Homo sapiens: one gene and its partners. The protein of the gene in region 2 purifies or fractionates together with the protein of the main gene of each other region. This does not show direct contact. Each region holds a gene or a part of one and is shown on either strand. Other genes may lie near its edges. The genes, in order: LSM12, ATXN2, EDC4 and PABPC4.

Region 1 (7,022 bases), on a different chromosome or scaffold from region 2:
TGGTGACAAAGGAAAACTCCTCTCCAAAAAAAGAAAAAAAAAAAATACAGCCTGGTACAGTGGCTCACACCTGTAATCCCAGCACTTTGGGAGGCCGAGGCAAATCACCTGAGGTCGGGAGTTCAAGAACAGTCTGACCAACATGGAGAAACCCTCTCTACTAATAATACAAAATTAGCCAGGTGGGGTGGCACATGCCTGTAATCCCAGCTACTTGGGAGGCTGAGGCAGGAGAATCACTTGAACCCGGGAGGCAGAGGTTGTGGTAAGCTGTAATCGTGCCATTGCACTCCAGCTTGGGCAGCAAGAGTGAAACTCTGTCTCAAAAACATAAAAAAATAAGACGGACGTGGTGGGGCGCACCTGTACTCCCAGCTACTCGGGAGGCTGAGACAGGAGAACTGCTTTAGCACAGGAGGCGGAGGTTGCAGTGAGCTGAGATAGAGCCATGGCACTCCAGCCTGGGCAACAGAGTAAGACTTTTTTTTTCTTTTTTTTTTGAGACGGAGTCTCGCTCTGTCTCCCAGGCTGGAGTGCAGTGGCGCGATCTCAGCTCACTGCAAGCTCCGCCTCCTGGGTTCACACCATTCTCCTGCCTCAGCCTCCCAAGTAGCTGGGACTACAGGCACATGCCACCACGCCCAGCTAATTTTTGCGTTTTTAGTAGAGACGGGGTTTCACCATGTTAGCCAGGATGGTCTTGATCTCCTGACCTCGTGATCCGCCCGCCTCGGCCTCTCAAAGTGCTAGGACTACAGGCGTGAGCCACCGTGCCTGGGTGAGACTTCATCTTAAAAAAATAAATAATAATGTGCCAGGTACAGTGGCTCACGCCTGTAATCCCAGCACTTTGGGAGGCGGAGGTGGGCGGATCATGAGGTCAGGAGTTCAAGACCACCCTGGCCAAGATGGTGAAACCCTGTCTCTACCAAAAATACAAAAATTAGCCAGCTGTGGTGGCAGATGCCTGGAATCCCAGCTACTCCGGAGGCTGAGGTAGAGAACTGCTTGAACCTGGGAGGCAGAGGTTGCAGTGAGCTGAGACAGCACTACTGCATTATAGCCTGGGAGACAGACGGAGACTCTGTCTCAAAAAAAAAACAAAGTAATAATAATAATAATAATACATAAAGTCAAAGTTTCCAAGAACCTACCAAAGACGTTAAGTGAGAGCCTAGTGTAATGGCATAAATCTTCTATGGGCCCTTTGTCACAATGCCCTCCTTCCCCTGCCTTATCTCATCCCATAATTCAATGAGCATTAGTTAGCTACAATAAAAAAATCTGGGCCGGGCACAGTGGCTCACGCCTGTAATCCCAGCACTTTGGGAGGCTGAGATGGGGGGATCATGAGGTCAGGAGATTGAGACCATCCTAGCTAACACGGGGAAACCCTGTCTCTACTAAAAATACAAAAAAATTAGCTGGGCGTGGTGGTGGGCGCCTGTAGTCCCAGCTACTCGGGAGGCTGAGGCAGGAGAATGGCGTGAACCCAGGAGGCGGAGCTTGCAGTGAGCCGAGATCGCGCCACTGCACTCCAGCCTGGGCGACTGAGCAAGACTCCGTCTCAAAAAAAAAATAATAAATAATAATAATAATAATAATAATTTGGGAGACATTAACTAACATCTGCCAAGTCTAATGACTTTAAAGACTGATCTACTTGGTTCATTCCTAAGTCTTTTCTACTAGACTACCCTGCCCCTGACCACAGAACATAGATGTTTTTCTTTACTTAGAAACGTTACCTAGGGGCTGGGCCAGTGGCTCATACCTGTAATTCGAATACTTTGGGAAGCCGAGGAAGGAGGATTGCTTGAGCCCAGGAGTTACAGACCATCCTGGGCCACACAGTAAGACCCTGTCTCTACAAAAAAAAACTAGGCTGGGCGCGGTGGCTCACGCCTGTAAACCCAGCACTTTGGGAGGCCAAGGCGGGTGGATCATGAGGTCAGGAGTTCGAGATCAGCCTGGTCAACATGGTGAAACCCCATCTCTACTAAAGATACAAAAAATTAGCCAGGCATGGTGGCGCACGCCTGTAATCCCAGCTACTTAGGAGGCTGAGGCAGGAGAATTGCTTGAACCTAGGAGGCAGAGGTTGCAGTGAGCCGAGATCACGGCACCACCGCACTCCAGCCTGGGCAACAGGGCAAGACTCCATCTCAAAAAAGAAAGAAAAATTAGCCAGGTGTGGTGGTTTGTGCCGGTAGTCCCAGCTACTTGGGAGGCGAGGTGGAAAGATCACTTGAGCGAACCCTGGAGGTCGAGGCTGCGGTGAGCTGTGACTGCATCATTTGCACTCCAGCCTGGGCACAGTGCGAGACTAACTAAAAAGAAACAAAACAACCACCCAGGTGTGGTGATGGGAGATTGTAGTCCCAGCTACTCAGGAAGCTTGGGCGGATCACTTGAGGCTATGAGCCAGGAGTTCGAAGCTGCAGTGAGTTATGATCATGCCACTGCACTCTAGCCTGGTCAACAGAATGAGACTATATCTCTAAAAAACAGAACACACACACACACATACACACACACACGAAACATAACTTAGCATTGTACATTATTCAGGGTACTTCATGTTGCCAAACTATGAGTTCCTTGGGCTAAACACAAAGTAATAGAAAAACAGGGGACTTGGCCAGGTGCAGTGGCTCACGCCTATAATCCTAACACTTTAGGAGGCCGACGCAGGTGGATTATCTGAGGTCAGGAGTTCAAGGCCAGCCTGGTCAACACGGCAAAACCCCATCTCTACTAAAAATAGAAAAATTAGCCGGGCATGGTGGCAGCAGGCGCCTGTAATCCCAGCTACTCAGGAGGCTGAGACAGGAGAATCGCTTGAACCGAGATCACACCGGGCAATGGACTGAGACCCTGTCTCAAAAAAAAGAATTCCCCCTACTGCAACCCTACTGTCCTCTCTCAAGCTTCCTCTTACATGCTACTGCTGGAGATAGAAATAAGACTTCTTAGCCTGAAGTGAACTATCATTCGAAAGCAAAACAGGCCAATTTCCAAGAAGTTGCTAGTTTATACCTTCCCTAGTTGAGCTATTATTAAGTATTTCCTGTATAAGCCCTTCTCTTCCATTTCCTGCTAGGTCAGAGTCAACAAATATCCGGTTTTTATCAACAGGTTTAATTAAGCAGATCACTTACTATGTCAGCAAGATGGGCCAATATGTGATGATACCTTTGACTAAAGTTAGAGTAGGCCGGGTGTGGTGGCTCAAGCCTGTAATCCCAGCACTTTGGGAGGCCGAGGCGGGCGGATCACAAGGTCAGGAGATCGAGACCATCCTGGCCAACATGGTGAAACCCCGTCTCTACTAAAAATACAAAAAAATTAGCCGGACATGGTGGCGGGCGCCTGTAGTCCCAGCTACTCGGGAGGCTGAGGCAGGAGAATGGCATGAACCCGGGAGGTGGAGCTTGCAGTGAGCCGAGATGGCGCCACTGCACTCCAGCCTGGGCGACAGAGCAAGACTTCGTCTCAAAAAATAAATAAATAAAATAAAATAAATAGAGTAGGCTAGTGCTTCTCCAGACTGCAAGCAACTGAAACTTCAACAGTTTTCTTCCAGACATCCCAGAGTACATTAGTTCCCTTCCATATGCTTAAATGATCCTCCATCTTAAGAAAAACTCAAGTCCGTGATCTTAAAAATGAGACTAACTTTTCACGTCATTCATGCAACATGTTAATAGCTGCCCGAAATAGCTGTTTTCAGCAGTAGCCCAAAAGGCTCTCTCTAATTCTAAGTCAATCTCCAAAAAGGAATCGCAAAGCATCCTAAAAGGTTGATTTCAAGGGAAAGCCAATATAGCTTACTCATAAACATCTCTGCAAACGGAAGAATGAATAAACGAAATCCAAAGATAACCCTCCAACCTAATTTTAGTTTTTAGTTTCTGACTCCTCTTCCCAGCAAACCTCTTTCAAGATTTGGCAAGCAGGCCACAGAGTAAGAAAAGTAAAGATTTCTGGTGTTCCCCAAGCTATTACTTCCTGCTGCTTTCCTCAAAAACTGGGTAATCAGCTAGTTTACAACAATGCTAGTAAACAAGGAAAACCCTAAAGGCAAAGATAATCCACAAACTAACCAAGAGCTATATCTACCTGAGGTCAAACATAAGAAGAGAACTGCTTCTTAACAGCTCCTGCTTAACAGTCCCATCCACACTACCCCACCCCCTCTAAATGGTGGCACTCATTGGTCACAAGAGCCAACTTTCTAACTTCAGAAAATCACCTCTCTTTCAGATCTTTACTACTCACTAAAGATCTAGTGACAGACTTATCATACCCTATAAACACCAAAAAATAACTCAGAGCCTATTTGGTTCTTTAATACACTAGGAATAATGCTGGGCACAGTGGCTCACGCCTGTAATTCCAGCACTTTGGGAGGCTGAGGCGGGCGGATCACCTGAGGTCGGGAGTTCGAGACCAGCCTGACCAACACGGAGAAACCCCGTCTCTACTAAAAATACAAAATTAGCTGGGTGTGGCTGTGCATGCCTGTAATCCCAGCTACTCAGGAGGCTGAGGCAGGAGAATCACTTGAACCCGGGAGGCGGAGGTTGCGGTGAGCCGAGGTTGCACCATTGCACTCCAGCCTGGGCAACAAGAGCGAAACTCCATCTCAAAAAAAAAAAAAAAAAACACCAAGGAATAAATTATTTAACAAGTCTTAAAATTTCATGAGCTTATAGAAGACACTCAAAGAGCTCCTATACTCTGGTAGAAGGTATATTACTAAGCCAAGGTTTCAAAAACCTATAAGCTTCAAAGAATGGGACATCCCATACAAGACAACACCCATATGAACTCAATAGCCTTCCAAATCTGTCCCTGGCCATCACTAAAAAATGTGTGGCATTTCCCTAGAATCTGACAAGATAGGAACTCCAGATCTGAGGTAACGACATTCACTAGCCTCAGCATCAGTTACCCTCTATTATTTTAGTTGCCTAAGTGTTTCCTTGCTTTGCTGAACTGTACAGAACACACCACATTCCCAAGAGAGGCAAAGTAATACACATTATTGCAAGATTCCTCTAGAGGGAAAAACTTCCACCACATTAATTCAAGAGACTTAATGAAAAGCACCTGCTACTAAAATTGGAGGCATCTTATTCATCCAACAAATATTTATTAAATACTCTGTGCAAGGCTCTGTATATTCAATAGTAAATAAAATAGGTATGGTCCCCATCCCTGCAGAATAAAGTTTAGTGAGACAGACACTAGACAAGTAAACAACTATGGCCAGGAGCGGTGGCTCACGCCTGTAATCCCAGCACTTTGGGAGGCCGAGGCGGGCGGATCACAAAGTCAGGAGATCGAGACCGTCCTGGCTAACACAGTGAAACCCCGTCTCTACTAAAAATACAAAAAAGTTAGCCGGGCGTGGTGTCGGGCGCCTGTAGTCCCAGCTACTAGGAAGGCTGAGGCAGGAGAATGGCATGAACCCGGGAGGCGGAGCTTGCAGTGAGCTGAGATGGCGCCACTGCACTCCAGCCTGGGCGACAAAGCGAGACTCCGTCTCAAAAAAAAAAAAAAAAAAAAAAGCTATGAATAGGGTAACCTAATCTATACCTGTTGTCCCTGTGTAAAATAAAAGCATTCCCCTTTACTCTCAAAAATGTCCCAGGTTGGACTACAAATGATATGGTCACCTTAACTGTGAAGGACAAGGTACTATGAGAGAGAATAATGCAGGCAAATTACTTCAGCCTGGGTGATCAGAGAAGACTTCTTGGAAGACGTGCCATTTAACTGAGTGCTGATGGGTGGTAAGGCTCCAGTCATTCTGGAAGGAAAAATGTTCCAAGTACAGGGGACAGCACAGGCTATGACAGGGCTTGAGGCATTATTATGATCAACTTCAATTTTGACTAAATAAACGGAATTGTCAAAAAAGTGACTTAGGGCCGGGCATGGTGGCTGACACCTGTAATCCCAGCACTTTGGGAGGCTGAGGCAGGCAGATCACTTGAGGTCAGAAGTTCAAGATCAGCCTGGCCAGCATGGTGAAACCCCATCTCTACTAATAATACAAAAATTGAGCCAGGAGCAGTGGCTCACACCTATAATCTTACCACTTTGGGAGGCCGAGGCAAGCAGACTGCCTGAGCTCAGGAGTTCAAGACCAGCCTGGGCAACAGAATGAAACCCCGTCTCTACTAAAATAAAACAAATTAGCCGGGTGTGACAGTGTGTGCCTGTCTCCAAAAAAAAAAAAAATTTGGCCAGGCGTCGTGGCACACACCTGTAGTCCCAACTACTCCAGAGGCTGAGGCACGAGAATCACTTAACCTGGGAGGCGGAGGTTACAGTGAGCCGAGATCGCGTCACTGCACTCCAGCCTGGGCGACACAGAGAGACTCTGTCTCAAAAAAAACGCCGGGCGCAGTGGCTCCAATAAAAAGAAAGACTTGGGCAGGCATGGTGACGCATGCATGTAATCCCAGCTACTCAGAAGGCCGAGGCAGGAGGGTCACTTGAGCCCAGGCGTTCAAGTTCAACCTGGGCAACAAAGCAAGACCCTGTCTCACACATACACACACAAAAGTGACTTGGGGGTTCCCAGAGATCAACTTTTATGTGCAAGATTAAAATATGCTAAGCATGTAACTGTTAGAACTCAAAATTCAAACATAAAGACAAAAAAGAACCTTTAAGACAGTGGCTTTCAAACTTTTCTAAGTCATGAAACCCTCCGAGAATCTGAAAAACACTTTAGATCTTCAAGCAGAAAATGCATATATTCACGTATGCACACATCCACATATACACAATTTGAAGACATTCATAGGTAACGCCACCACCCAAACCCCAGCAGCACTATTAGTTCATCATGAACTCCAAGATTTAAAAAGTCCTCTTTCATAAAGGCAGAAGCAAGCTCTCAACTTATTTGGGAGTTAAGCTACTTCTTAAGATCTACTGATAACATCCAGGAATAAAGAGAAAAACTAAACCTACATTTTTTAAAAAGATATCAGAACAAACAA
Region 2 (7,481 bases):
CCTTCAAAAATATATATAACAAAGAACAAAATAAATCACTTCTGAAAGTCATGAAAAACTATTCACACACACACACACAAAGTCAAATTATGAAATGTTTCTTAAAGCAGATGTGAATTTCCAGACTTTCAAGCATATTTTGCTATCTCGAAACTTGTCAAACCGAATGCTGCATTTTTTTTCACCCTTGCTCTCAGAGACTTATTTTCACTGTTGATACGCACAAACCTAAGTGAGGAGATTCTAGAAGCTGAAACTTATTTACAAGGAATGCAGGAAAGTGATTCAAATTCAAAGTAATTCTACAAGTACATTAACGATCTGTTCAAGAATAAAACTTCACATTACACAAATCCAACACAGTAAACAAAATTTCACCTATTCATCAGAAAGAATAAGGGCTGCCATTTAGGTCTCAAGTAAAAGAACTTAAAGCAAGGAAAAATCTAAATTAACCTTAAATTGTTGTAAAGCCTCAAGGAACAGAAAAAAGACCTTGTGGTACTAAAACATTCCAAATATCTTTGATCACTCAAACTACTCAGGAGCAAATTCTCTTATAATCTAATTTTTAAGCCTAGTAGTCAATGCAACTTAATAACCTTAGTTTTAATGTTTATATATTTGAACATGTTGAATTATCTGCCAAATCTCTTCCTAATACCTAAGAAAGTAAAAACAGAATACATCCTTTTCTATAAAAGTTGTATTTTAAATTTTTTCATTTTTCGCTAGATGCCAACGAAAAAGGGAAACTGAAGTTACCCTACTTGGGGAAACGATCACTTCATCTGAACTAGTTTGGCTAAGTAGTGTTTGGGATGCTTCAGACTCAGAGAAGGGGAAGGGGGGGCGGGGCGTGTAAAGTCAAATAACCGACTGTTTCCGCCCCCTTTGAAGGCAGCAGAATTCCTTAAAAACCAGCTGATTCCTCTTGATGGGGAATTTCTGCTGTAAATAAAAATTCTTTGGAAATGGGTTGCTGAAAATGTGTTTTCAAAAAGAAAACTCGGGTGAATGAAAAATCCTCTTATTCCACCTTCCAAAGCCCAAGATGCCTATTTAAGGAGGACGCCGGTCACCCGCCGTCAAGCCGGCGGCCTAGGCCTAAAGAAGGCACAGTAGTGCCTACAACACGGATGGACTTGAGGCACAAGGGAAATGGACTTGCGTGCCCTTGGTAAGCTCTGGCGGCACTCCCGAAGTTAAGGACACCGGCCACAATGGAATGGAGTCTATTGACGTTTCCTTCTCCCTTTGAACACTAAGCATTTTCTTAGTTCGTGAAATACGAACTGACAACCGCCCGCCACCCCCAACAGGCCCTCCTGCACAAACACACCCTCGAGTCAAACCCAGTTAGCCGGGACAACACTGAGCCCCCAGCCCCTACTACAACCCCGGCTTAGGAGGGAAAAAGACGCTAGTAAACACCCGCCTTTCTGCCTTCAGGAACCCGACCACGTCCCCTGCTGCAATCTCTCTCTCCTAGCATTTCCGAAATTGGGGCGGGGGTTGGGATAAGTGCGCAGGGTGCCCGCCCCCTGCCACCAGCACCGCCACCCCGGATCTCCAGGGTCCAGCCTGGGTCCAGCCCTCACCCACCGATGTTCCACAGGCGCCTTCTCCACTGCGGCCTCGAACAGCAATGCGGATCGGCCACCACCCGCGCGCCGGAGAGGTCTGGCGGGGGAAGGAGGAAGGCCGGGACGGGGCCGGGCACTCCCCACCCCTTCCCTTCCCCAGGTGGGGGAGGGTGGAACGCTGCCGGAGGCCACATGGAGCCCCACGATTTCAGGGGAGTTCGGGAGCCCCCGCCGCCGCCTCGGACACGAACGCAGAGGGGTGCGGGGGCCAAGGCCCACTTGTCTCCACCCCGTCCTCCGATCTTTCCCAGGACTCGGAGGGGGCGGGGAGAGAGCCCCGACAGACCCTGATGATTCCGGAGGAGCCCGGTGCCTACCCCTTTAACCGGCACGGGGGACGCGGCCCTAACTTCTCCCCTCCAGAGATGTCCCCCATGGAGGGGGACATGTTCCGGAAAACGCCACCACAGCCTCCAGACCCCTCCAACGTTCACACCTAAACCGGGAGTGGAGGAGCTGCCCGAGCATCCCCACGCTGCGGGCGGAGGATCGTGCGGAAGGGGGAGCCGGGGCTGACCATCGCCGCTACCCGAGAACCCCTCCCAACACGCGTGGGGAGGGGAGGCCGCCCGCTCCCTCCATCTTGACCGCCGGGGGAGGGGGCGGGGATGCTGCGGGAGGCTGGACAGGCCTGACAATCCCAGAGGACCCCGGCTGCGCCCACCGGCCGAGCCTCGGGGCTCAGGCCCGAGCGAGTCTCCCCCGCGCTGCCGGCCCCCAGCCCACCCCGGGTAGCCCGGCGGGTCACGGGGCGGGGACGGCGGCGCGGGCCGCGGGGGAGGGGACGCCGGGCCCGGAGCGGAGGGGGCTGGGGTGCCGACACCCACCTGCCCAGGCCGGGCCTCCCGCCGCCGGAGGTCGCCGCGACCACCGAGGAGGGAGCCGTGGCCGAGGACGAGGAGACCGAGGACGAGGACGGCGAAGGCGCGGCGGCGGGCGACGCTAGAAGGCCGCTGCCGCCGGGCTTGCGGACATTGGCAGCCGCGGGCGGCGGCTGCTGCTGCTGCTGCTGCTGCTGCTGTTGCTGCTGCTGCTGCTGCTGCTGCTGCTGCTGCTGCTGCTGGGGCTTCAGCGACATGGTGAGGGGCCCATACACCGGCTCGCACGCCGGGCGGGGACAGCCGGGAGCCGGGCGCGCCAAGGAGACGCCGGAACGCGGCGGGGACGCGCGGGCGCCGAGCGGGGAGGCGCGGGTTGGCGCGGCCGGAGGGGCGCCCGGGCTGGCGAGGGGGAGAAGGAGGACGACGAAGGGGCGGGGAGGCCCGCCGAGACCAAGGAGCCGCCGGGAGCCGGGCCGAAACGCGCCGCCGCCGTTGCCGTTGCTACCAAAACAGTCTGAGGCGGAGGGAGGCGAGCTCTGCCGGGAGGGAGGGGGGCCGGGGCCGGGCGGGGGAGGGGCGGCGGAGGGATACGGTCCCGGGGCCGCGCCACCGCCGCCCCGCCCGCTCCGCCGCGCCGGCCGCTGGAGCGAGCGCCACCCGGGCCACCTGGCTGCGGCGAAGCGGCGAGACTCGGTGGCCACCGCGGGACTCCGAGGAGCTGCGGCCGCTGAGCGCATCGGAGGGCGGGCGCGCCGAGGCGCCGGGTGGGAGCGGAGGTGCGGATAGGGACTCTTTACCGGAAGTCGGAGGGGTCAGACGGAAGCAGAACGTGAGGTGGCCCCGGGGCCGGGAGGGACACGTGAGGAGCGGGCGGCGCGCTGGGTTGCTTTCTCGGGGGTCGGGTGAGGGCCAGGCGGCGGTCCCTACCCGGATCCGCCTTCCTCAAGGCGGGTCTGCCCTTCGGGGAGGGCGTGTCGGTCTCAGCCTCTGGGGCCTGCCTGGTGTGGAGGACAGGAGAGAAGCATTTCTTCTCCTACTGTATTCCTTCAGCATCTTCACTTCTGCGGGGACCTAGTTTGCCCCCACCTGATGCAACCCAGAAAATGGACTGACTGCGAGTGCCTTGGGGCGGAGAATGTGTCTTGCTACGTGTAAAGCACCTAGAACCCTGCCAGATTCAGGGGACACAGCATCCTGCCGTTTTCCTGCCGTCCCCCGCCCGCCACACAGTAGGCGCTCCAGTGGCTCGGGGCATCTACCAGGCAGGCCGCGCTGTCCTGCCCTGCCGGGGCTGGAGTGGAGCAACCCTCCGGGGCCACCCACATCTGGGTACCTTTTCCCCACTTTTTCCACCCCAGCCGCGCACAGTCACCAGAAAACTCTTTTAGGTATCTGACCTTCATTTGAACCTATGTTCCCTCACTTGAACTTCTTTTTCCTCATTCATGAGATTCTAAAGGAAATATATGGGATTGGGACTGGTAGAACTACGGATAATGGGATCTCCCTCGGTAGAGACAGAGCCGACCTCAAAACAATGTGCGAACTTTAGACCTTGGACCCTTTAGAAGTTTTAATTTAACTTACCCAGCCAGCACAGTAGACTCTTTTTAAAATGTGTTGCAGTTAAACTGGAAGCAAGTAGAAAGTAGGTAACTTTTTTTTTTTTTTTTGAGCAGTGAATCTATTGTTTTTTAAAGTGAAATGACTTCAGGAAATAATAGGGGAAGAAACACCAAAATTCCCCTCAATGTCCTAGAACTGTCCAGATAAAGGTAAAGACTTAGATAAACGTGGAGAATGATTGAACCAGCAGTTTTCAGTAGTCCAACTGAAATTAACCTCCTAGATAGTCCAGGCAAAAATGATCATTGTATTCTGCCAATGTAGGAAATCAGTTTTATTTCCCATCTAAGGTAAAAAGTAGATCAAGGGACCATTGCAAAACCCTTTAAAAATTAACCTAGCCTAGCCAACATGGTGAAACCCCGTCTCTACCAAAAATATAAAAATTAGCCGGGTGTGGTGGTGGGCGCCTGTAATCCCAGCTACTCGGGAGGCTGATACAGGAGAATTGCTTGAATCCGGGAGGTGGAGGTTGCAGTCAGCCGAGATCATGCACTCCAGCCTGGGCGACAGAGCGAGACTCCGTCTCAAAAAATAAATAAATAAATAAATAAATAAAGTAACCTAAAGGAAACTGGAACTAAAAAACCAGTTGAAACAAAAAAATACCTGTACCCGGCTGTGGTACAGGCCAGGGCTGCTGTGAGGGGAAGCTCCTGGAGAGGGTGACATGGGGCAGGGACCCAAATGAGCATGGGCATGAGGATCCTGGGGAGAAACGCTCCAGGTGGAGGGCACAGCGAGGGCAAAGGCTCTGAGGGGGGAGTCTGAGGAACAGCAAGGAGGCCTGCAATGGAGCAGGTCGTCAATGGTGTCCCGTTATATTCTTTCTTTAATAGAAATACAAACACTTGGCCTGGCGCGGTGGCTCACACCTGTAATCCCAGCACTCTGGGAGGCCGAGGCGGATGGATCACCTGAGGTCAGGAGTTCAAGACCAGCGTGGCCAACATGGTGAAACCCCATCGCTACTAAAAATACGAAAAAATTAGCTGGGCGTGGTGGTGGGCATCTGTGATCTCAGCTACGCAGGATGCTGAGGCAGGAGAATCGCTTGAACCCAGGAGGCGGAGGTTACAGTGACCAAAGAGGGCACCACTGCACTCCAGCCTGGGCAACAAGAGCGAAACTTTATCTAAAAAAAATAAAAATAAAAAAATACAATCACTTTTCTCTGATTGGAATCAAGGTCCCAGAATACAATCTTAAGAACAAGTTTTGGCCAGTGTGGTGGCTCACGCCTGTAATCCCAGCACTTTGGGAGGCAGTGGCCGGTGGATCACCTGAGGTCAGGAGTTCGAGACCAGCCTGGCCAATTTTTAGTAGAGCCCATCTCTACTAAAAATACAAAAATTAGCTGGGTGTGGTGATGCGCACCTGTAGTCCCAGCTACTTGGGAGGCTGAGGCAGGAGAATGGTGTGAACCTGGGAGGCGGTGCTTGCAGTGAGCGGAGATCACACCACTGCACTCCAGCCTGGGCGACAGAGCGAGACTCCGTCTCAAAAAAAAAATAGTAAGTTTCAGGTCGATGGAAGTTGAATAAGAAGGCCTAGGCTGGATACAGTGGCCTACACCTATAATCCCAGCACTTTGGAAGGCCAAGGCAGGCAGATCCTTTGAACCAAGGAGTAGGAGACCAGCCTGGGCAACATAGTGAGACCCTCCTCTCCATAAAAAATTTTTCAAAATTAAAAAAAAAGAAGGCCTGAAGCTGACATAGCTGAGAAAGTTTGTTTTAACTCACTACCATTGAATAAAAACTTAATAGTTTTATCAAGATATAATTTACATACTATGAAATTCACCTATTTTGTGTACAATTTAATGATTCTCAGTAAATTTACACAGTAAATTTGCACAACCATTGCCACTAATTTCAGAACATTTCCATTACCCCAAAAAGATCCTTCACGATGGTGGGCAGTTTGGTTCCCATCCTTAGCCCCAGGCAACCACTCATCTACATTTTCTCTCTATGGATTTGTCCAGATTTTTCACATAAGTAGAATCTTACAGCATGCAGCCTTTTGTGTCTGCCTTCTTTCATTTGTCATAATGTTTTTGAGGTTTATCTAAGGTTGTGGCATGTAGCAGTATTTCATTCCTTATTATTGCTATGTCATATTCCATGTATGGACATACCACATTTTGTGTCTACTTTCCAATTGTGGATGTTTAGATTGTGTCAACTTTTTGAGTATTATGAAAATGCTGCTGGGGCTGAGATTGGTGGCTCACTCCTGTAATCCCAACACTTTAGGATACCGAGATGGGAGGATCACTTGAATACCCCGGAGTTTGAAACCAGCCTGGGCAACATAGAGAGACCCTGTCTCTATGAAAAACTTTAAAAATAAAAAATTAGCTGGTTGGCTGGGCGTGGTGGCTCATGCCTATAATCCCAGCACTTTGGGAGGCCGAGGTGGGTGGATCACCTGAGATCAGGAGTTCGAGACCAGCCTGGCCTACATGGTGAAATCCCGTCTCTACTAAAAATACAAAAAATTAGCCAGGCGTGGTGGCGGGCACCTGTAATCTCAGCTACTTGGGAGGCTGAGGCAGGAGAATTGCTTGAACCCAGGAGGCGGAGGTTACAGTGAGCCGAGATTGCACCATTGCACTGAAGCCTGGGTGACACAGCAATACTCTGTCTCCAAAAAAAAAAAAAAAAAAAAATTAGCTGGTCATGGTGACACGCACCTATAGTCCCAGCTACTAGGGAGGCTGAAGCAGAAGGACCGCTTGAGCCCAGGAGATCGAGGTTGCTGTGAGCTACGAATGCGCCACTGCACTCTAGCCTGGGCAACAGACCAAGACCCTGTCTCGTTCAGTTAATAGAGTTGCTAAAACACACACACACACACACAAAGAAGAAGAAAGAAAAATAATAATGCTGCTATGAACATTTGTGAACATATATCTTCATGTGGATATATGTTTTCATTTATCTTGGGTTGGTTCCTACAAACGAAATTGTTGGGTGATGTGGTAAGTTTATTTAGTTATTTTTATTTTATTTATTTATTTATGGAAACTACCTTTTCTCTGGACTTCAGAAGGCTTAAGCTTTATATGAAAATATCAGAGTAGGCTGGGCACGGTGGCTCATGCCTGTAATCCCAGCACTTTGGGAGACTGAGGTGGGCTGATCACCTGAGGTCAAGAGATCGAGACCATCCTTGCCAACATGGTGAAACCCTGTCTCTATTAAAAATACAAAAATTAGCCAGGCATGGTGGCTCACACCTGTAATCCCAGCACTTTGGGAGGCCAAGGCGGGCAGATCACGAGGTCAGGAGATCAAGGCCATCCTGGCTAACACAGTGAAACCCCGTCTCTACTAAAAATACAAAAAAATAGGTGGGTGTGGTGGCGGGCGCCTGTAGT
Region 3 (6,936 bases), on a different chromosome or scaffold from region 2:
AGGCTGGAATGCAGTGGCACAATCTCAGCTCACTACACTTCTGCCTTCCGAGTTCAAGCAATTCTCCAGCCTCAGCTTCCCAAGTAGCTGGGATTACAGCTGCCCGCCACCACACCCAGATAATTTTTTGTATTTTTAGTAGAGACAGGGTTTCACTATGTTGGCCAGGCTGGTCTTGAACTCCTGACCTCAGGTGATCCACCTGCCTCGGCCTCCCAAAGTGCTGGGATTATAGGCGTGAGCCACCTATTTCTCTTTGCATTTTCCTTCCTCCTTCTCAAGACCTATTATTCTCAGAGACTTCCTGTGGTCCCTCAGACCCCCCAAGAACTCTCCAAGGACCTGTTGTGCTTCAGCATATTAAAGTCAGATTCTGGGCTGGGCGCGGTGGCTCACGCCTGTAATCCCAGCACTTTGGGAGGCCGAGGCAGGCAGATTACCTGAGGTCAGGAGTTTGAGACCAGCCTGACCAACATGGAGAAACCCTGTCTCTACTAAAAATACAAAATTAGCCAGGCATGGTGGCACATGCCTGTAATCCCATCTACACGGGAGGCTGCGGCAGGAGAATCGCTTGAACCTGGGAGGCAGAGGTTGCGGTGAGCTGAGATTGCACCATTGCACTCTAGCCTGGGCAACAAGAGTGAAACTCTGTCTCTAAATAAATAAATAAAGCCAGATTCTGTTTACAAAAACACCCTTCTTCCCAAAAATAGCAGGACAAATTGGCTGCCCCTCGGCCTGGGCTTGTGTCTTACAATAACATGGTCACATGCTCTCTTTCTCTAGGCTAGCCGGGACAGGGCTTCCTGAGTCCAGAGTGGGTGTGTAGGTGGTCCTGTGGGCCTCTGCAGTGGACGCAGAGGCACCTGCTTTCTGGCCTGGACTTTCCTGTCAGTTTCTCCTGCCTGTTCAGGATGTCCTGCTCAGTGCCTGTGCCTGAAGAGGCACAGAATTCAGGAGGTCTCTGTAGGGAGCTCATTGTTCACTTTCTCAGGCAAAGGTAGTAAACACTGCTGCTTCCCACCGGCTTCAGGTTCTTCCTGGTGATTCTGTCCAATTTGGAGCTCCCAAACAACTGATTTGCCTCCTTGATGACGATAATTCCCAGAAAGCAGGTGATGTTAGAGACAGTGCTGGTTAGCTAGGCTCCTATTTCAACTAGGTCTCATCCTAGTTTTCTGCAGTTTGGCTGCAGGTTTCTTGCCCTTTTTTTTCATCTCAAATACTGTTTATTACATGACAGGAAACATCATTGGATAGTGAACCTATGTTTTCAAGATTGTTTGCAGTTTTTTTGATACTCTATAAGTTACTTGGTAAATACTATGGGATTCGTTTCAAAATTGTGATCACTTGTGTCTGGAGATATGTGCTTGGAGGCAGGTACATCCTCTGCTCTTTTGCTGTAGCTAAGGGTGAATTATTGTGCAGTTTAAGCACACATAGCACACATAGGCGTGGCTGATTGTTGGCCTACATGTGCCCAGGGCATTGTTTCATACATTACATCAATTCACATTCACAAGTACCCCTTGGCTACACTGGGATTTGAGTTCAGGACAGTAGGGCCTGATCCTAAAGTCAACATTTTTTTGCCCTCTTCTCCTACCACTGAATTCCCTTCCTGTTTCTTGATCCCCTTACTGAATCCTCTTTTCTCTCCTCATAGGCGGATGAAGACCCCATCATGGGGTTCCACCAGATGTTCCTATTAAAGAACATCAACGATGCTTGGGTTTGCACCAATGACATGTTCAGGCTCGCCCTGCACAACTTTGGCTGACCTCCTCTCAGCTAGGCACTCACGCTGTTTCCTCCTCCCTCCTCTTCCCAATACTATTCCCACTCCTCCAGATGCTCCAAATATCATGCACAAATGAGCAGGGCCGCGGTGGGAGTGGGCGCAGTGCGCTGCTGCCACTGAGGTGTTGTGCATGATGTTTGGATGCTAGACTAGTTGCATCTGACGGGAGAAGTTTGTGTTGTACCAGCGCATGCCTTGGAAAGACTTAAGTAATGCAAAAGGTTGTCCTTTTTTTTTTTTTTTTTTTTTTAATCTACTGACAAGTTGCTCTAGTAACCCAAAGAAGTGAAGGAGAAAGCAGCTGCCTCACCGCCCAGACATTGATTTGTTCAGATGTTTCAATGCCTCATGATACAATAAAACCACAAAAATTTTCTTAACAGTTTAAATTGTTTTAATTAGTTTACTAGTTGGCTGGGCATCAGAAGCTACCCAGACCCGTTGTCTCTCTCATGTTTCACCCTCCCACTTCTGCCCCAACTCTGAATACCTGTTGCAGGGAGAAACTGCTGAAGCAGCACTCCCAGCTAGCCTCTCAGAAGCCGTGTAGGGCAGTTCTCTCCCACTCCACAGGGCGACTGGTCTTTGGAAAGCAGGCAGGAAGAGCTCAGGTCTGGCCTGAAGCTTCTCTCACTGAAGCCTGTGCAGTCAGTTCTGATACCTCCTGTGACTTCTGCTCTGGGTAGGTTCAGGGCCCTAGTAGCAGGAGAGATGATCCTGAATCCTGTTGAAGCTGGAGAGGCCTTGGCAAAATGGCTCATCACGTTCAGGCCCTCCGGGCTGAGTTGTCAGCAGTATCAAGGGAGGGGCCTGCTCTATCCCCAGAAGGATCAGGATCATATCCAGGATGCCCCACATACACCAAGCCAGGCAGAGGGCAGCTCAGCTCCTGTCCCATCTGCTTTGGATATCTTTACCCAAAGGCAGGTAACCCGAAGAGCCAGCCTCCACTGCCCACAGAGCCAGGCCCAGTTGTGTTGGAGTATAGGTCAGGAGCTGTGGAAGGAGGCAGTCTGTGAGGGACTCATGCTTTAGGAGTCCTCACCCCTCAGACTGCTGCAGGACATTGCCAGGCCTCTCTCCACTTCCTTCCTCAGCATACAGACTTCATGCTATCTTCCAATTCCGGGGAGTCTTAGCTATTAGGGCAGTTTCTGCTTCTCCATTTTGGGGACAAAGGCCTTGCCCAGTACAAATCTAGCCCCTTGTCCCACAGACTTCTGGATGGTATAAACCTAGTGGCAATGTAGCAACCATAGGCTAGAACCAAACCCAAGATTTGGGTCAGTGCCCTGTTAAGGGTTTTAGGATTGGTAAGGACACCACAGCTAAATCTGACATGTAAAAGGATACCCTTCCCCTGTCCCACTACGGGTGGAGGCTAAGGACCTCCTCAGATCCCACAGATTGCCTGGTGACATTGGGCACAGGGCTGGATGGTGTGCTGTTTGAGAGGACAGCATGCTCAGGAGATTTCAGTGGGAATGATCTCTAGGCTGATGTGTATTTGGGGAAGTGGGGGTGGGGAAGAGGTAGGTGCCTGCTGCCTCAAACCACCTTGTGTAAAATCTGCAATACGGCTTCTTCCATGTACCTGTGCCTGAACTGTCTGCAATAAAGAAGAATTTGTAAACTGTGGTTTCTTTCTTCCAACCTGAGGGTGCCAGGTGGGACAAGGGGATGCTGGGGGACAGTAGGGAACAATGACTGGTCATTGTAGTGGGATCATCTCCCCTGCTCTTGCAATTCCTGAGTTTTATGACCTCGAGGGTAGCCTCAGGCCTTGAGTTATTCCGACCCATTCCCAAAGGGAACCTGAGGCACCTGCCAATTCAGCATATTCTGGGGGTCTGAGGGACCTTAGCATGGGCGGCTAAGTTGACCCCGTCCCAGGACCATCGGAGTCCATGCTCTGGGAGTGGGCAGGGACCTGGCGCCTTCTGAGTCGAGTAGGGCTTTAGGTGGCCCAGTGCGTGGACGCTTACTTCAGCCCCGTGGGACTTTCCTGACCTCGCGGACACAGGGGCGGGGCCGCCGAGGGGGACTGGCTGCGGGAGGGGTTTAGGCTTCCGCCCCCAGCCCGGAACCTTTCTTCTCCGGCCCTGGCAGGTTCCGGGAGCCTCGGCTCGTGGGTGCCGGAAGTGGAGGCGGTTGGTGGGGTTGGCGGGGCTCAGCGACGCTGCGCGGGTGGCGGTTTGCGAACTGCGGGTGGACTGTGTAGTGACCGGCGTCCCGCTGTCTCGCCCCGTGGCGGGTGAGCGAGGGTGCGTGGTGCGCGGCGGCGGCGGAACGAACGCGGTGCGGGCGGGGCGCCCGCCGCAGGGCCCATGGCCTCCTGCGCGAGCATCGACATCGAGGACGCCACGCAGCACCTGCGGGACATCCTCAAGCTGGACCGGCCCGCGGGCGGTGAGCGGGGGTTGCGGGGGTGGGCCCCAGGCGAGCTGACAAAAGGGCGGCGCGCGTCTGAACCGCCATTGGGGCCCACAGCTCCCTTAGGACTAGCTCTGGATCCTCCCGGCGGGTAAGGGTGGACGGGGATTGACTGTGCCCCTCGAAGGGCGCAGACCCCTGGGTGTGACCCCTCCCTATCTTGTCCTCAGGCTGTTCTGCCTTGTCCTTCAGCGTCTCGGTTGAAGGTGAGGCGCCTTCTCTGAATCCGCTGGGGCCCTCTGGTTTCCTGGCCCCGAGGTCTCTAGTGTTCCTGGGACTGGCCTAGCTCCTCTTCCCTTTCTCCATGGTTCAGAGGCCTGGTCTGGGCTCCGTATATGGAATTCTGGGCCCAGGCTTAAGCGCGATGCTGAAGAGCTGCCGGTCCCCCTCCATAACTTGCCCTTCTCTCTGGAATAAAGACTCCAGGCCTCCCGTTCTGAAACTGATTTCCAGGAGGAAGGTGTCCAGTCTCAATTCCGTGTTCTTTCTGGGATGAAGGCAAATCACAGACCGCACCACCCTGACTGAATTATGCTACAAATATCTGCAAGCCCTAATTGGTTCCCATTCATTCATATTTCGCTTTGGCTCTTAATGATACCTCAGAACTAGTCTTGCCCCCAAAGATTCCCCAAGACACAGCTAACAGGGTTGTAATATACTGTTGTCATTGAAAGAAAGGAGTGTCTCGATACTGTGATGGGCGTGGGAAGGGTGGAGGCTGGTGAGTGCAGAGTGCAGGTCTGAGAGGGGAGACTGGGCTAGGTCTTGTAATGTGAACAGGGGCTTGGGTGTCAGGAAAGGCACCCAAGGCACCTATGGAGAAGCCACCTATTAGGAAGAGGAAATAGCACGTGTGCAGGCACTAGTTTACTGACAGGTTTAGGGATCTCTGAAGTGGCCGGTGATGATGGTGTGGGCGTACAGTGGAGAATTGTGTTTCCTCAGATCTTGTTCTTACACCTGCTGGGAGGCCCAGACTGGCTGCTTCTGGAAGCAGGCACTGGTGCTCACTAGGGGTGGATTCAACTAACCCCTACTTTCAGAAAATCCATCTGCTGCCTGAGACCACTCGGCCCTTTGTCCCAGGCCTGGAGTGTGTGCCCTCTTTACTCATGAGTTGGGCGTGGACCTCTCCTGCTGCTCAGCTGCTTTGTAGACTAGACTCCGCAGAGATTTGGTAGAGCCTGGCATGGCCAACCATGTACAGCCTGAGCCTGCTTTTTGGTTGTCCTCATGGTACCCTTCATGGAAGGGAGAGTTGTCAGCTTGTCCCTGAGCAGCTAAAGTGGCTCTGATCTGAATGAAGTGGCCTGGAGGCTTTCCTTATAACTACTTTGTTTATTGATTGGCACTTGATTCCCTTGTTTGCCAAGCAGCTCTTTCTTGTCTCCTCTCACTGGACGACCAGGTCAGAACTCAGACTATTGAGGACTGGGCGCGGTGGCTCACACCTGTAATCCCAGCACTTTGGGAGGCCGAGGTGGGTGGATTGCTTGAGGCCAGGAGTTCGAGACCAGCCTGGCCAACATGGTTTCTTAACATGGTGAAACCTTATCTCTACTAAAAATATAAAAATTAGGTGAGCTGTAATCCCAGCTACTTGGGAGGCTGATGCAGGAGAATCCCTTGAACCCAGGGGGTAGAGGTTGCCATGAGCCGAGATCGCGCCAAAATAATTCAAAGACTGTTGTGACTGGAAACTTGCTATGTTCTGAATGTGGAGCCCTAGGCTCCTTGCCACCTGGGGATTTTGGAAATGGTGTCTGAGCCTATGAGAGTGTTTGAAACCCAGCCAGTTGCAAAGAACTGAAATGCTGTCTTTCCTTACTCCACACGCTGCCCCATAGTTTCTCTCCTTTTGGTCCAGCTCCTTTATGTCCCTGCCTTCTGTGTTTACTTGCCCAAGATAGCTTCTTCTGAGCCATTTCTGTGTGGGGCAGCCCCTTCCACATCTTACCAGTGCCCTTCCATGCCTTAGGAGCCCATCTTCTCTCCAAACTCTGACACTACATTGGTCTAGGCCTTGATCTCTCTCACCCAGATTCTCAACCATTCTGCATGCTATCTTAGAGTAATCTTCCCACTGGCCAGAACTGACCACATCACCTTCCCTTTTGAAACTCTTTATGGTTCTCATGGCCCACAGGGAGAGTCTAAGTGCCACGGCATCATACCTGATGCCTCTGTAGCTTTGTTTTCACTCCATCCTTCCTGTGTTTGTGTGTTCTGGTCACACTAACTGCTGTATAAAGTCTTTCCTGACCCCTCCTATGCCCTCACTCAGTCCACAGAGTTCTTCTGTAGTGACCCAGACCTGAGTATTCACTGCCCTCAAAGGGTCCTTGATGGCTTGTACCCCTCCCCCAGGTAGAAGAGCCTCATGCTCATCCTTGGTCCTGCCTACATCAGTGTTTATGGAACGAGAGATGAACACAGGGCCCTCCTCCTCATGGACATGCTTTGCTCAGTTGAGTGTTCCTAGAGCACCTCATAGTTCTTGAAGGAAACTCTGAAAGGGGAGAGGCTTGTGGGCAGGTCGAGCAACCTTATCAGAATGACCCTCTTTGTCCCCAGGCCCCAGTGCAGAGAGCCCACGGCCATCCAGTGCCTACAATGGGGACCTCAATGGACTTCTGGTCCCAGACCCGCTCTGCTCAGGTGATAGTACCTCAGCAAACAAGACTGGTCTTCGG
Region 4 (7,362 bases), on a different chromosome or scaffold from region 2:
CACTCCAGCCTGGGCAGCAAGAGTGAAACAGTGTCTCAAAACAAACAACAACAAAAAGAACCAAAAGCTAAAAAATAACACCACCTGCCAGCCAAAACACTTCTCATCACTAATCGCAACAAGGATGCCCAGATCTGGTGGCCACTTTTCCTTAAGGCTATGATGGCATCTCCTAACGGTGACATCACCCAGAACCTCCTCCATGAGGGGATTTAGACAGGGTCAGAGCAGTGGAACCTGCTCCTTGCCTCAGGACAACATCTCACTTAAAGGGGGGACAAAATTCCCCAACTCTGCCGCTCCACAAGCTCAACTGTTTCATTAGCCGGGAGAATTTATTTTCACTCATTATTTCCAACAACTTTCCCCACCCCCTTCAGAAGGTGGGCCTCATCTGTGTGGGGGGTAGTTGGGAAAAGGGGAGATGACAAGACCGATCCAAGTCAGGAACAGTCCAGGGAAAGAGGACTTTGCTTGTGATGGCTATCAGAGATAGATAGCTGGGATCGCAAACTATTTCATTAATTAGCAGTAAAGGAGCCCACTTCAACAACAGCTCCTCGTCTATTTCCAGACAGCACTGCACAAGGCAAGCCGGCTTAGTCTGACAAATCTGGCTGCACTTATTTATAGCAGGGAGAAGTCCTGCAGAAGTATGTGTTGGCAGACACACTGACCAATAGCTTCTGCTATCTCTAAGTGACACGACTTTTGTTCAAAAGTCAGTAAGGCAGACAACAGCTAATGTGGTACATTATCCCTTAAAAAGACCACACTCAGCTACCTTTGCGCTCCTATGGCCATGGACAGAACTCAGCTTGGAGCACACTGGATTGACAGTAGCAATACCTAGTCCCTCTCAACATGTCCAATTCTCTGGTCTCAGCCGCAACCTGGGCAGGTAGTAACTCTGGGCCTCAGACAGAAAACAAAGGGGGGACCCCAAAACTAGGGACCTGGAGATGCTTTGCCATAGAATGGCTTGTTTCTCCCAGTAATGATCTCTGCAGTTGTTCCCTTTTAATCTGGAGTCACGTGCAGCCTCTGATCAGGTTTCCTCTGGCCTCCCTCCTGCCACGCCTGCAGCATACCTCTCTCCATGCTCCACGCTAAGGCCACAATCTGAGGTGGCAGAGCACTGTGCTGGGAGTCCTAACTTGGCTTCCAACTTTTTGCATTCGTTCTCCTTCTCAGGAGTCCCATTTTCTTCAGATTAGATGAAATAAAAGGGCTCTGACTAGTGCAAAGCACTGTTACAGCTGAGGTGACAAATGACACCAGATTTTCAAGTGACGCTTCCCTAAACTACCTCCACGACACTCTACAGCACAGAGCCTGGATACCATTTGTCCAGAGTAAAGCACTTCTCCACTCCAGTGGCAAACACACAGACCAAGGAGGTGGCCTGGCACACGCAGCTTTTGTGGCACTAACCTAAGTCTCTGCGAAAGTTTAACGCACAGAAACCTTCCCCCTGCTTCCTGCCTGCCCTGACTGATCCTTTATCAGCACAACATCAGGTAGTCAAGGTTAGTAAAGGTGGCGGAGCGGGCAGGAGCTTTACAATGTAAAACTTTCGCGGGGAATTGTGTTTCAAACGTCCCGCCTTTTTGGCCAGCCTGTGAGGGGCACAAGCAAGGATCTCTAACAGCCCAGCCCCACTGACAAGGACCACACGCAGTGGAATGCCAGTGGCTTCACTCTAATCCTGTTTTACAGTCTCCTTGGTTTCCAACCCCACTACCAGCAACACTAATAAGTAGCCCAAGGTCACCCAGTTAGCAAGTGGTAGAAACAAGATTGAAACTCGAGTCATCTGATGCCAGGTCCGCGTTCTCAATCTCCGCACCCTGCTCCCAGCTTCGGTGGCAACATGCTGTCGTGATGCCGCCCTCCTCGGCAGGAGGGCCCTGCCAGAAGACGACTCCCGGGGTCCTCCGGGCTCCCACGCACGTGTGGGCACAGCTTCTACTCACCGTCGGCCGGCTGCTGGAAGTTGACGTAGGCATAGCCCAGGGAGCGGCGGGTGATCATATCGCGGCAGACCCGGATGGACAGCACAGGCCCCGCGGGGCTGAACTTTTCGTACAGCATGGCCTCGGTGACGTCCGAATGCAGGTCGCCCACGTACAGGGAGGCCATGGGGTAGCTGCTGGCCGCAGCGTTCATCTCCCCGCCCCCCACCACCCCGAGCCCCGCCAGGAGGACTTCTTATCGGGCCCGCCGCAGGACAAAGGGGCGCCTTCGGAGCCCGGGCCCGCGCCGCGGCTCACAGGTGGCACCGGCGCGGCGAGGACGAGCTGGAGTCGGCGGGCTTGGAGACGGGACGGAAACGGGAGGCGGGGGCCGGCTCCCACGGCCGCAGCACCGCAGACAAAAGGCTCTCCGCACAATACGGCCCTCCCCGCGACTTTGCACTTCTCCGCGGTCCTGGTGCGAAGCTCCAAATTTCAAAAAATCAAAGTAGGAAAAAAATTAAACGGGGAATCCCCTTCCGAAGGGTAAAAATCCTTTAAGAGGCGACCGGACGCTGCCCACGGCGGCCTCGGGGACACGCGTTTCTCTATAAATATAGGCCTCGGGCTCCGGCGGTTTAAGATTACAACCGCCGGGGCAGAGGGAAACCAAATCTTTGTGGGCGCCGACTCGGCGAGCCCCGGGCGGGCGGCGAAGGGCAGCACGGACACGTGGTGCGCCGGGGCAGGCGCGGGGCGCGGGGCTCGGGGCCCGAGCGGGGGGAGGGCACGGCGGGCCGGGCGGGCGGCTCACCCCCGGACCGACGGACGGAGACCGACGGACGCCAAGCGCTGCGGCGGCGGGCGCGGGGCAGGCCGGAAGCGTACGAAAGTGACTTCCCCGCGGGTTCTCCGAGGATTCGTTTTTTCTTTTCCTTTTTTTTTTTCAGGATTTTGAAGCGTTTTCAGATTTTTTTTATCTTTTTCTCTTTTTTTCCTCAGGCTGCGAAGCCCGAAAGCGGCGGAGGCGGCAGCGACCCGGGGCGGAGAGAGGCGGCCGAGGGAGCCACCGCTCCATTTATACCCGCCCGCCCCGGGCGCTGCTGGTCGAAGGGCGCCTCGCGACCTGGGCGCAGTCGTGCCCGCCCACTCGGCCCGGGGGCCCGAGGCGGGGCGGCCACGCGAGAGCGACCCGGCGCGGCCGCGCGGCGCTACAGCGACCCCTGGCGCCGGGAGGACCGCCCAGCTCGCGGCTGCGGGAGACCCCAGGGCCCCTTTCTATAACAAATAAATCTTAACACCCTCCCACCCATCACCCGGGAATGGAACCTAGGAGCCATTTAACCTGCACACACGCATGAGGTTTAAAATTAAATGGTATGGGGCTGGGTGCAGTGGCTCACGCCTGTAATCCCAGCACTTTGGGAGGCCGAGGCGGATGGATCATGGAGGTCAGGAGATCGAGACCATCCTGGCTAACGCGGTGAAACCCCGTCTCTACTAAAAATACAAAACATTAGCCGGGCGTGGTGGCATGCGCCTGTAGTCCTAGCTACTCGGGAGGCTGAGCAGGAGAATAGCTTGAACCCGGGAGGCGGAGGTCGCGGTGAGCCAAGATCGTGCCACTGCACTCCATCCAGCCTGGGCAACAGAGTGAGACTCCCTCTCAAAAAAAAAAAAATTAAATGGTATGCCAAATTGTGAAATGAAGGTGACATAAAATAAGTTAAAATAAAATAATAGGTGGTCCAATAGGTAAATGTCTGGGTCCAAATACAATAAAGATTTGAGAAGTTTTCAGGATACCGTTGACCTAGAGGTAGAATCGTCAGGAACTAGAAATGCAAGCAGTATCCATGGGTGATGGGATTTTCTGAAAAGATGAGCACATTTTGGTAAAGCTTCAATGAAACCAAACACAAGCATCCCCTCTATTGACATGCTGGTGGCATTCCCGGACATTTAGTTTGTGTTTAAGGGCACAGAAATACTTTCTGTTCCTATGTTTAAAGTTTCTTCTAGGCTTGGATAATTATAAAAAGACTTTTCATCTGCATGAGAGTCTGGCAGGTCATTTGAAAGTCGTATCACAGGCCAGGCGTGGTGGCTCACGCCTGTAATCCCAGCACTTTGGGAGGCCGAGGCGGGCGGATCACTGAGGTCGAGAGTTCGAGACCAGCATGACCAACATGAAGAAACCCCCGTCTCTCCTAAAAATACAAAAAGTAGCCAGACATGGGGGTGCATGCCTGTAATCCCAGCTACTCAGGCGGCTAAAGCAGAAGAATCGCTTGAACCCGGCAGGCAGAGGTTGTGGTGAGCTGAGATCATGCCATTGCACTCTAGCCTGGGCAACAAGAGCGAAACTCCGTCTCAAAAAAAAAAAAGTCATATCACTTTATAGGACTATGTTATATGGGACTGTCCACACGCATTACAAGATATATAGCATCCCTTCTTCCATAAGTGCCAGGAACCACCTTTGCCATCACTGTGAAAACCAAAAACAGAAATTGCCAAAAGACACAGACATCCCCCTTCAAAAGCACTGATTTAAGTAAATGACTAAAGAAATATGTGTATTTATATATTAATTAATTCAAATAAATGGTTAATCTGAGCCTACTCTATGCCAATGTCAATACAGGGGCTGGAGATACCATGGTGGACCAGAAGTCACTCCCTCTCTCATGGAGTTTATATTCTAATAACTATATTAAATCAAGAAACATTGGCTGGGCACGATGGCTCACACCTGTAATCCCAGCACTTTGGCAGGCTGAGGTGAGCGGATCACCTGAGGTCAGGAGTTCGAGACCAGCCTGGCCAACATGGTGAAACCCCATCTCTACTAAAAATACAAAATTAGCCGGGCATGATGGCACGTGCCTATAGTCCCAGCTACTTGGAAGGCTGAGGCAGGAGAATCGCTGGAACCCAGGAGGCAGCGGTTGCAGTAAGCTGAGATCATGCTACTGCACTCCAGCCTGGGTGACAGAGCGAGACTCCGTCTCAAAAAAAAAGGAACATTTATGGGAGTGCTCCTTCTATAGATTCCCTCCTCAGGAAAGTCTTCCTAGACCTCCTGTGGTCTAAAGTAGCCGTCAACATTGTTAATCACTATCACACCAACTTGTCTTCTTGTCTTCAAGCCTGTTATTCCTACCCAAAATTATGTTGTTCTATATCTGTTTACCTGTTTAGTATCTATCTTTTCCACATTGGTATATAAGCTTCATGAGAACAGGAATCTAGAATAGTGCTTAACATAGCACGTACTAAATGTTCAGTAACTGGCCAGGCAGGTGGCTCACACCTATACTCTCAGTGCTTTGGGAGGCTGAGGCAGGAGGATCGCTTGAGCCCAGACATTTGAAACCAGCCTGGGCAACAGAGTGAGACCCTATCTCTACAAAAAAAAATTTTCTTTTAATTGGCTGGGTGTGGGGACACATGCCTGTGGTCTCAGCTACTTGGGAGTCTGAGGTAGGAGGATCGCTTGAGGCCAGGAGTTGAAGGCTGTAGTGAGCTATGATCATGTCGCTGCACTCCAGGCTGAGCAACAGAGTGAGACTCTGTTACTAAAAAATAAATAGATAAATAAATATTCAATATATGTTTGTGTGTGTGTGTGTGTGTGTGTGTGTGTGTGTGTGTGTTTTCTTGTTTTTTTTGTGGGGGGGGTATGAAATCTTCCTCTGTCACCGAGGCTGGAGTGCAGTGGTGCAGTCTCGGCTCACTGCAACCTCTGCCTCCCAGGTTCAAGCAATTCTCATGCCTCAGCCTCCCAAGTAGCTGGGATTGCAGGCATGCGCCACCACACCTGGCTATTTTTTTTTTTGAAACCAACTCTCGCTCTATTGGCAGGCTGGAGTGCAGTACTGCGATCTAGGCTCACTGCAACTTCCGCCTCCCGGATTCAAGCAATTCTCCTGCCTCAGCCTCCCGAGTAGCTGGGACTACAGGTGCGTGCCACCACACCTGGCTAATTTTTGTATTTTTAGTAGAGATGGGGTTTCACCATGTTGGCCAGGATGGTCTCAATCTCTTGACCTTGTAATCTGCCCGCCTCGGCCTCCCAAAGTGCTGGGATTACAGGGGTGAGCCACCACGCCCAGCCTTTTTTTTTTTTTTTTTTTTTTTGAGACAGAGACTTGCTCTGTCACCCAGGCTGGAGTGCAGTGGCGTGATGTCGGCTCACTGCAACCGCCACCTCCCGGATTCAAGTGATTCTCCTGCCTCAGCCTCCCAAGTAGCTGGAATTACAGGCACCCACCACTATGCCCAGCTACTTTTTGTATTTTCAGTAGAGATGGGATTTCACCATGTTGCCCAGGCTGGTCTCCGACTGCTGACCTCAGGTGATGTATTCGTCTCGGCTTCCCCAAGTGCTGGGATTACAGGCGTGAGCCACACACCCAGCCTGTGTATTTTTTTTTTTGTTTTTTTGTTTTTTTTGAGACTGGGTCTCGCTCTGTTGCCCAGGCTGGAGTGCAGTGGCGCGATCTTGGCTCACTGCAAGCTCTGCCTCCCGGGTTCACGCCATTCTCCTGCCTCAGCCTCCCGAGTAGCTGGGACCACAGGTGCCCACTACCACGCCCGGCTAATTTTTTGTATTTTTTAGTAAAGATGGGGTTTCACTGTGCTAGCCAGGATGGTCTTGATCTCCTGACCTCGTGATCCGCCCACCTTGGCCTCCCAAAGTGCTGGGATTACAGGCATGAGCCACTGCATGTATTTTTTTTTAAGCAACAAAGTCTCACTGTGTTGCCCAGGCTGGAGTGCAGTGGCCTGATCATAGCTCACTGCAGCCTCAAACTCCTGACCTCAAGCGATCCACTTTGGCTTCTTAAAGTGTTGGGATTACAGGCATAAACCACTGCACCTGGCCTAAATATTTGTTAAATAAACAAATGAATACTAGGCACAGATGAGCAAAACCCACACAAGCTCTGACCTCCTGAAGCTTATTGTCTATTGGGGGAGCTTATTACCTATATTACTTTGGGCAAGCTAGTTCACATCTCTGACCCTCAAATTTCTCATCTGAACTATACTAATAAACCTTATTAACAATTAAAAGGGTTATTGTGAGAATAAATGAATACATATAAATACACATAAATTGTTTGGATTAATTTTTTTTTTGAGATGTCTCACTTTGTCGCCCAGGCTGGAATGCAGTGGTGCGATCTCAGCTCACTGCAACCTCTGCCTCTCAGGTTCAAGCGATTCTCCTGCCTCAGCCTCCCTAGTAGCTGGGACTACAGGCATACATCGCCACACTGGGCTAATTTTTTGTATTTTAGTAGAGACAGGTTTTCACAATGTTGCCCAGCCTGGTTGCGAACTCCTGAGCTCAGGCAATCCGCCCCCACCTCAGTCTCCCAAAGTGTTGGGATTACAG

Evidence for each region.
Region 1: the proteins of ATXN2 (region 2) and LSM12 purify together in Homo sapiens (affinity purification with mass spectrometry; 4 studies listed by BioGRID and IntAct, with this or other methods). This does not show direct contact.
Region 3: the proteins of ATXN2 (region 2) and EDC4 purify together in Homo sapiens (affinity purification with mass spectrometry; 2 studies listed by BioGRID and IntAct, with this or other methods). This does not show direct contact.
Region 4: the proteins of ATXN2 (region 2) and PABPC4 purify together in Homo sapiens (affinity purification with mass spectrometry; 4 studies listed by BioGRID and IntAct, with this or other methods). This does not show direct contact.

What each region holds. Positions count from the first base shown.
Region 1 is NC_000017.11:44,056,668-44,063,689, forward strand, and holds part of LSM12 (protein LSM12), read right to left. Parts: intron 1-7,022. UniProt on the Homo sapiens protein: Nicotinic acid adenine dinucleotide phosphate (NAADP) binding protein. Confers NAADP sensitivity to the two pore channel complex (TPCs) by acting as TPC accessory protein necessary for NAADP-evoked Ca(2+) release.
Region 2 is NC_000012.12:111,596,311-111,603,791, forward strand, and holds the start of ATXN2 (ataxin-2), read right to left. Parts: upstream 3,006-7,481; 5' UTR 2,725-3,005; coding exon 2,474-2,724; intron 1-2,473. UniProt on the Homo sapiens protein: Involved in EGFR trafficking, acting as negative regulator of endocytic EGFR internalization at the plasma membrane.
Region 3 is NC_000016.10:67,869,128-67,876,063, forward strand, and holds the start of EDC4 (enhancer of mRNA-decapping protein 4), read left to right. Parts: upstream 1-3,924; 5' UTR 3,925-4,134; coding exon 4,135-4,216; intron 4,217-6,817; coding exon 6,818-6,936. Other genes in the region: NUTF2 (nuclear transport factor 2), read left to right, coding at 1,673-1,786. UniProt on the Homo sapiens protein: In the process of mRNA degradation, seems to play a role in mRNA decapping. Component of a complex containing DCP2 and DCP1A which functions in decapping of ARE-containing mRNAs. Promotes complex formation between DCP1A and DCP2.
Region 4 is NC_000001.11:39,573,783-39,581,144, forward strand, and holds the start of PABPC4 (polyadenylate-binding protein 4), read right to left. Parts: upstream 3,009-7,362; 5' UTR 2,170-3,008; coding exon 1,977-2,169; intron 1-1,976.